2 linked regions of the Homo sapiens genome follow. The protein of the gene in region 2 purifies or fractionates together with the protein of the main gene of each other region. This does not show direct contact. Each region holds a gene or a part of one and is shown on either strand. Other genes may lie near its edges.

Region 1 (3,825 bases), on a different chromosome or scaffold from region 2:
TACCTGGGGAATAGAGCCTGGGACTTGGCTTAGACCTACACTGGAATCAGTATCTGGCTCTGAACCACATGGTTTTGTTACCACTCCCCATCACCCCCAGCCCTGCCACCATGCCTTGTATGTGTACACACTGAATGTGTACATGTGCATTGATGGGTAGGGGGAGAAACCAGAAATCTCCCCGGCTGCCTTTTGTAGCAACTGTTCTGTGATGAGAAAAGCAATGGAAACATGTTCAACCATAATGATGATTAAACGCGAATGTACGTATTTATGTTCCTTTCATAGGTTTCTCTTAAAGTTCTGATGATAATTTCAGGAACCTATTTTTATTTGAAAAATAGGACCATACCCTGTGTACAAGACTAATTTCTAAAGACACTTTATAAATGAGAAATATCTTACCAAAGTTACTATTGCACATTCAGCTGTTAGCTGTGCAGCACTAAAAAGAGTACGAACAAATCTGTAAATAAATTTGTGCTCAGGATCATGCTTAAAGTATTCCTCTGGAACTTTTTCTCGCTGAAAGAAGAAAAGATGCAATGTTAGTATCCACTGAAGAAAAAAATTTTAAGCTTTTTTTTTTTTTTTTTGAGACTGAGTTTCACTCTTACTGCCCAGGCTGGAGTGCAATGGCATGATCTTGGCTCACTGCAACCTCTACCCCCCGGGTTTAAGTGATTCTCCTGCCTCAGCCTCCTGAGTAGCTAGGATTACAGGCACCCGCCACCACGCCCAGCTAGTTTTTGTATTTTTAGTAGAGACGGGGTTTCAACATGTTGGTCAGGCTGGTCTCAAACTCCTGACCTCAGGCAATCCACCTGCCTTGGCCTCCCAAAGTGCTGGGATTACACGCGTGAGACACCACGCCCGGCCTAAGTACTTTTTTTTTTTTTTTTGAGACCCAGTCTTGCTCTGTCGCCCAGGCTGGAATGCAGTGGCACAATCTCGGCTCACTGCAACCTCCACCTCCCAGGTTCAAGTGATTCTCCTGCCTCAGCCTCCTGAGTAGCTGGGATTACAGGCGTGCACCAACATGTCCGGCTAATTTTTTGTATTTTTAACAGAGGCAGGGTTTCACCATGCTGGCCAGGCTGGTCTCAAACTCCTGACCTCATGATCTGCCCACCTCGGCCTCCCAAAGAGCTGGGATTACAGGGGTGAGCCACCATGCCCAGCTGGCCTAAGTACTCCTAAGACCAGCAGTGTTGACGTTTGAGCCCATGTACCCCTTAAAATAATTCTGGTTGAGTGACATGACTTTTAGTTTTTAAAATATAAACAATTGGATCTTAAAATATCATAGTGATTCAATACTCATCACCATTTATCATTAAGGAAAAATACAGGCACAACTCAGAAAATTTTTATGTTCCTTTCCACTTTCTATCCACAGAATTCTATCAAAATGTAAACTACTTGTAGGCTCGAAAGTCTTACTAATCATATGTTAGGATTCTCTTAAATACACTTTGAAAAATTTTTTTTTTTTGAGATGGAGTCTCACTGTCGCCCAGGCTGGAGTGCAGTGGAGCGATCTTGGCTCACTGCAAGCTCCGCCTTCCACGTTCACGCCATTCTCCTGCCTCAGCCTCCCAAGTAGCTGGGACTACAGGCGCCTGCCACCGTGCCCGGCTAATTTTTTGTATTTTTAGTAGAGACGGGGTTTCACTGTGTTAGCCAGGATGGTCTTGATCTCCTGACCTCGTGATCCGCCTGCCTCGGCCTCCCAAAGTGCTGAGATTACAGGCATGAGCCACCGTGCCCGGCCTGAAAAAATATCTTTAGTTTCCTGTAACCATAAGGCTCAAAGGCTTCACTGTCCAAGACAATAGTCATTAGCCACGAGCGGCTATCATATACCTGAGGAAGTGAATTTTTAAATGTTTACACCATTTTAATTGATTTAAATTTAAATTGTTTTCTAATTATCTTCATAGAGATCATGTATATTTGTTAGGACTATTTATAAATATCAGCATGAAATAAACACAACTCTATGAGAGAAAAATACTACCTCAAAAAAAGTGACACTTACTGTAAGTGGATGTGATCTCTCATCAAAAATATCCAGGGATCTATTTGCATCTCTATAAAATAAGAATATGCATTGAAGAAGTTAATTCAGGAATTGTTAATATCTGAGTAAAATGTCTGCTGGGGGTGGCGGGAGATGCCTCCTGTTTGCTTTGGTGTTTGCTTCACCAAAGCAAAGAGTTGTACAAATTCTTCTCCGGGATGCCAGCCTTCAGAGGATTTCCTGACCTCTTTTTACTCAGCATATGAGGTTCTGTACTGTGAGGTCTTTTCTACAATGACGATTCAGAATTGCCTTTAAGTATTGGCCCTCCCTAACAGGCAATGGTAATAAAGTATATTTTCACTCTTCTAACCCCTCATTGGAACTCAAGAACGTTTTACACAGCAGTAGTGGTGGGCAATAAACTCTTTAGAACTTTAATGACTGTGAATGAAATTCAGATTTCCCAGGCTTTTCCTTTCTAGTTCTCCGTATTACATTCTTGACATGTATTTGTTTAAGTAGTTTGATGAGTTAAAAACCTTATTGTCTTTTTATTTTAAAAGAGACAAGGCTTTGATAATCTTTACAAGTTTATAAAACTAATACATTGTGCTCATTTAATAAAACCAGTGGTTCTCCAAGTGTGGTCTGTGGACTTCTGGAGACCCTCTAGATCCTTTTCCAAGAGGTCCTTGAGGTCAAAACTGTTCTTTTAAGAATACTTATTCAACCTGAGAAAGCTGATTGAAAATTTAGAAATAAAAATAATTTAAAAAAAAAGAATACTAAGGTATTGCTTGCTTTTTGACTGTATGACATTTGTAATGAGTGTATAACAGCAAAAGTGGGCAAACTGCTGGCTTCTCAGCATGAATCAAGGCAGTGCTACCAAATTATACTAGAAGTTATGCTACTCTTTACTGCCTCTTGCAGTTTAAGAAAAACACCTGCTTCACTCATGAATATCCTTGCTGAAGCAGTAAAAATTAATGGTATTATTAAATCTTGACCTTTCTTTTCACTATTCTGGAGTAAGCAGAAAGTTCACATAAAGTAATTCTGCATACCGAGGTAGAGTTGTGTTAAGGAAAAGCACTTGTGATTTAATTGTGAGCTAAACAAGCCATTTTTTTTTCACAGAATATCATTTTTACTTGAAAGTACAAATGTCATTCTCAAAAATGAAAGAAGTGGCCAGGTGTGGTGGCTCATGCCTATAATCCCAGCACCTTGGGAGGCTGAGGCGGGTGGATCACTTGAGGTCAGGAGTTCGAGACCAGCCTGGCCAACAGGGTGAAACCCCATCTCTACTAATACAAAAATTAGCCAGGCATGGTGACAGGCGCCCGCAGTCCCGGCTACTCAGGAGGCTGAGGCAGGAGAATCACTTGAACCCGGAAGGCAGAGGTTACAGTGAGCGAAGATGGCACCAGTGCCCTCCAGCCTGGGCAACAGAGTGAGACTCAGTCTCAAAAGATAAATAAATAAAAAGTTTTAAAAAAATGAAGCCTGTCACTTCAAGAAAATAACACTATTTGTTGCAATGATAAAATTCAAGCTTTCAAACTAAAAATCAGGATTTGGAGAAACTTGTACCTTATTATGTGAGTTTAACAGCTTCTCAATACTTAAAGATTTTTTAATACAATTGGTGGTGATACTAACAAAAGTGAGCTTTGCCACTGTCAAGAAATGTGAACCAGGCTGGGTATGGTGGCTCACGCCTGTAATCCTAGCACTTTGGGAGGCTGAGGTGTGCGGATTGCTTGAGCTCAGGAATTCAAGACCAGCCTGGGCAA
Region 2 (3,825 bases):
GACAGTGAAGAGTAATACTTGAAACACTCATATTTATTAAATTTAATGAAATACTCCAAACATAAAACTACCATAATCAAAGCCAGGTGTGATGGCTCACACCTGTAATCCCAGCATTTTGGGAGGCCAAGGCAGGCAGATTGCTTGAGGCCAGGAGTTCGAGACCAGCCTGAACAACATGGTGAAACCCCATCTCTACTAAAAATACAAAAATTAGCTGGGCGTGGTGGGCACCCCTGTAATTGCAGCTATTTGGGAGGCTGAGGCACCAGAATCGCTTGAACCCAGAAGGCGAAGGTTGTAGTGAGCTGAGATTGCACCACTAGACTTCAGCCAGGGTGACAGAGCAAGACCCTGTCTCAAAACAAACAACCAAAAAACTACCATAATCATTTATGAAAAAAAATTATGAATTTAGTTATGGAAAACTGCATGGGTTTTTAAAAACTAAGTTCTCTAAGAGTATTCAAACTCTCAGAATGCGGAATACAAAAAATTCAAAGCTGCTCTACAAAGTTCCTTCAATATGAAAAAGTTTACTTTCTAGAAGCAAAAAGAGCATTTAATTTTACTTTCAATTCCCTTAAAACCAGATTAGCTAAAAAAAAAATAGATAAATAGCTACAATTAAATTACTGAGCATATAATAAATACAGAGTAATGGTGGCAGGTATATTAAGGGAACGCCTTTCAGTAGTTGCTTCTAAACTCATTGTTCTCAAGACCCATTTTATACTCTTGAAAATTATCAAAGACCTAAAGAGCTTTTATTTTTGTGGATATATTTACTGATATTTGCCACATTAGAAATTAAAACTTAGCAAATTTTAAAATATTATTTTCTCTTTAAAAACACCACCCTTTATATGCAGCATGTATGACATTTTTATGAAAAACATTTTTTTTATAAAAACAAAACAGTAAGAAGAATGGCCTTCTTTCACATTTTTGTAAATCTCTTTTAAGTCTTGTTTTTGTAGAGATGGGGTCTTGCTATGTTGCCCAGGCTGGTCTTAAACTCCCGGCTTCAAGTGATCCTCTCACCTCAGCCTCATAAGTGCTGGGATTACACCCCTGAGCCACTGTGTCTGGCCTAAAGTCTATTTCAATAGAAGACAACTGGATTCCACATCTGTTTTTGCATTCTGTGTGTCGTGATATGTTGCTTTGATACATATCACAATATGTATCAAAATAGATCAAATATACATATCACAACATACATATATGAAGGAAATCAAATCTCACACAGATATGAGGTTGAAAGAGGAGGGGCATTTTAATAGCCTTTTCTGATAAATGTGAATAGTCTTATTTGACACTACATCAGAACTAGAAAGTAAGTGGTCTCTTAAAAGCTATGTGTTAACAAAACCTATAACGATGAACTTCTCATGCTTTTGTTGCACTAAAATTCATTGACCTTGTACTTTAAATGGGTCTTTTATCCATGCATGATTCTGTAATATCATGCATTAGCCATTTGGAAAACAGTGGATCCCTGGGTTATACATTCCAAATGTTTATACACTTTTTCAGCATATTGAAAAATCGTGTTTGTTAACATCAACATCGATCTCATCAGAAAAGTCTCTAAGTATTGAAAAGCCATCAAACTCAAAGCAGATCCAAATTTCCAAACTCTAATTTTTGCTTGAAAACTTGAATTTTATTATTGGCAAGAAATACTGACAGTTCTTTTCCTTGAAATGATAGGCTTCCTTCATTCACTTTCAGGAAAATGTCTGCCAAACACCTAAGTCTGAATAACCACAGTTTGTCTGTCAGTCATTTAAGTAAAAATGGTGTCCCCTCAAATAACAGGGCTAGTTCAATGTGCACTCAAATAATCACATGAGCACTTTTCCCTGAGAAGTAACCACATTATTTCTGTGTGCAGCAAATGAGTTTTATGTACACTTCCCATTTTATCACATAAAATATTAAAAAGAAATGTAGTCAAGGATGGAAATTAAATATAATTAATAAATTTTATTGCTTCATCATGTAAGTGTAACTGACAGTTTTCCCTTTACGTAAGTGTAGTGGTAAAGAATACAATGACGGCCTGGGCATGGTGGCTCATGCCTGTAATCTCAGCACTTTGGGAGGCCGAGGCGAGTGGACCACCTGAGGTCAGGAGTTCGAGATCAGCCTGACCAACATGGTGGTCACGCTAAAAATACAAAATTAGCCAGGCATGGTGGCGCATGCCTGTAATCCCAGCTACTTGGGAGGCTGAGGCAGGAGAGTCACTTGAACCTGGGAGGCAGAGGTTGCAGTGAGTCAAGATCACACCACTGCACTCCAGCCTGGGCTTTAACAGCAAAATGCTGTCTTCAAAAAAAAAAAAAAAAAAAAAAAAAAAGATATATTTTGGTGCCACTACTTTGATGTATAGTTTTATGCATTATTATTTTGGGACCATCATTGCAAATATTAACACAGTGAAATAGGCAAATAACAGATGGTACAATTTTGGTAATATATTTACATTTAGAGGCCTCCTACAAGGGTCTCAGGAGCCCTAGGGGTCTTTGTCCACACCCAAGAACAGCCTGTGCATTTTAGAATTTGCTGCTAATAACCAACATAAATCACCAACCAAAGTTCTGTCAAATATCTTATTCTGTGGGCTACCGAGAAAATTTCCAAACCCACATAAAAGCAATGGCACATTATGACAGTGGTTGATCTTTTAACCATTACACTTTAGAACCTGGAAGTACTAATAAATATCTCATACATTCCATACCAAAATCTGCTAGCTTTAATTCTCCTTTCTCATTAATGAGGAGGTTCTGTGGTTTCAAGTCTCGATGCAATACCTTTCTTCTATGGCAATATGCCAAACCACGTAGAATTTGGTACAGAAACAGCTACAGAAACAAATAAATAAAAATTAGTCTTAAAGATGAGACATGCTTTAGTATAAGCATAAATGATGGTAAGCAGAAAAGCAGCTGGCCTAGAACATTGTAACAGGAAAAAGAAAGTAATTGCATACTTAAGTACAATGTCTTTTTCCTTTTATATATAGTGGCTTTCTGAATTTAATAGTTTATTATTCTATTTGAAGCATCTACCTATTTCTTTTAGTCTAACAGTATCTATGGAAATATTTTTTAAAAAGTAACTTCCTCCTAGCAGTAACAGTTGATTTACTGTGGAAAATGACTTAAAAAAAAAAACATATCCTCATAAACTTACAGGCCTACTAAGGTTTACATAGTTTAATTATAAAATTCTGGCAAAACAACCAACCAACCCCCCTCCCACCCATCTCTCCTTGAAAAAAAACAAAAACAAAAACTCTGATCTGGGGCAGTGTCTTTAAAATAAGGCACTGGAATTGGCGATTTTATGAAAAGTCTGAGGTATCAAAGAGAAAGCTGCTGCATAGCTCTGGCAAATTACTTACTATAAAACTAACCTAAACCAGCTTCTATCACCCATCTCTTGGGTACTTTACTTTCAGCACCTCCTACTTAGCCTTCAAAATCTACTGTGATTCACAAAGGGGCATTAGCACCGTAGTGTTCTGAATGACTCTGAAAAAAGTAATTCCTATAAGGCTAATGGTAGAGTTTTTGCTGTACATTTTGGTAGAAAGAGGGTTACGGAACACATAAGACCTTTGATTCTCTGGGGTTAACAAAAAGAACCTCAAGTACAGAGGATTCAAGAGTTTCCCCTCAGTTCATCTGTAGGTGAAAAACAGGGCATCCGAACACTGAGGCAGCCAAGGCAGCAGGTCAACGGTATGCCTGAATGAATTCTCTGTGCCAGAGTCTCTCCAGTCTACATAATTATGTTTTTAAAACT

What was found.
Region 1: the proteins of CDK17 (region 2) and CCNYL1 purify together in Homo sapiens (affinity purification with mass spectrometry; one large-scale study listed by BioGRID and IntAct). This does not show direct contact.

The regions. Positions count from the first base shown.
Region 1 is NC_000002.12:207,738,923-207,742,747, reverse strand, and holds part of CCNYL1 (cyclin-Y-like protein 1), read right to left. Parts: intron 2,094-3,825; coding exon 2,042-2,093; intron 526-2,041; coding exon 406-525; intron 1-405. UniProt on the Homo sapiens protein: Key regulator of Wnt signaling implicated in various biological processes including male fertility, embryonic neurogenesis and cortex development. Activates the cyclin-dependent kinase CDK16, and promotes sperm maturation.
Region 2 is NC_000012.12:96,292,244-96,296,068, forward strand, and holds part of CDK17 (cyclin-dependent kinase 17), read right to left. Parts: intron 2,880-3,825; coding exon 2,756-2,879; intron 1-2,755. UniProt on the Homo sapiens protein: May play a role in terminally differentiated neurons. Has a Ser/Thr-phosphorylating activity for histone H1.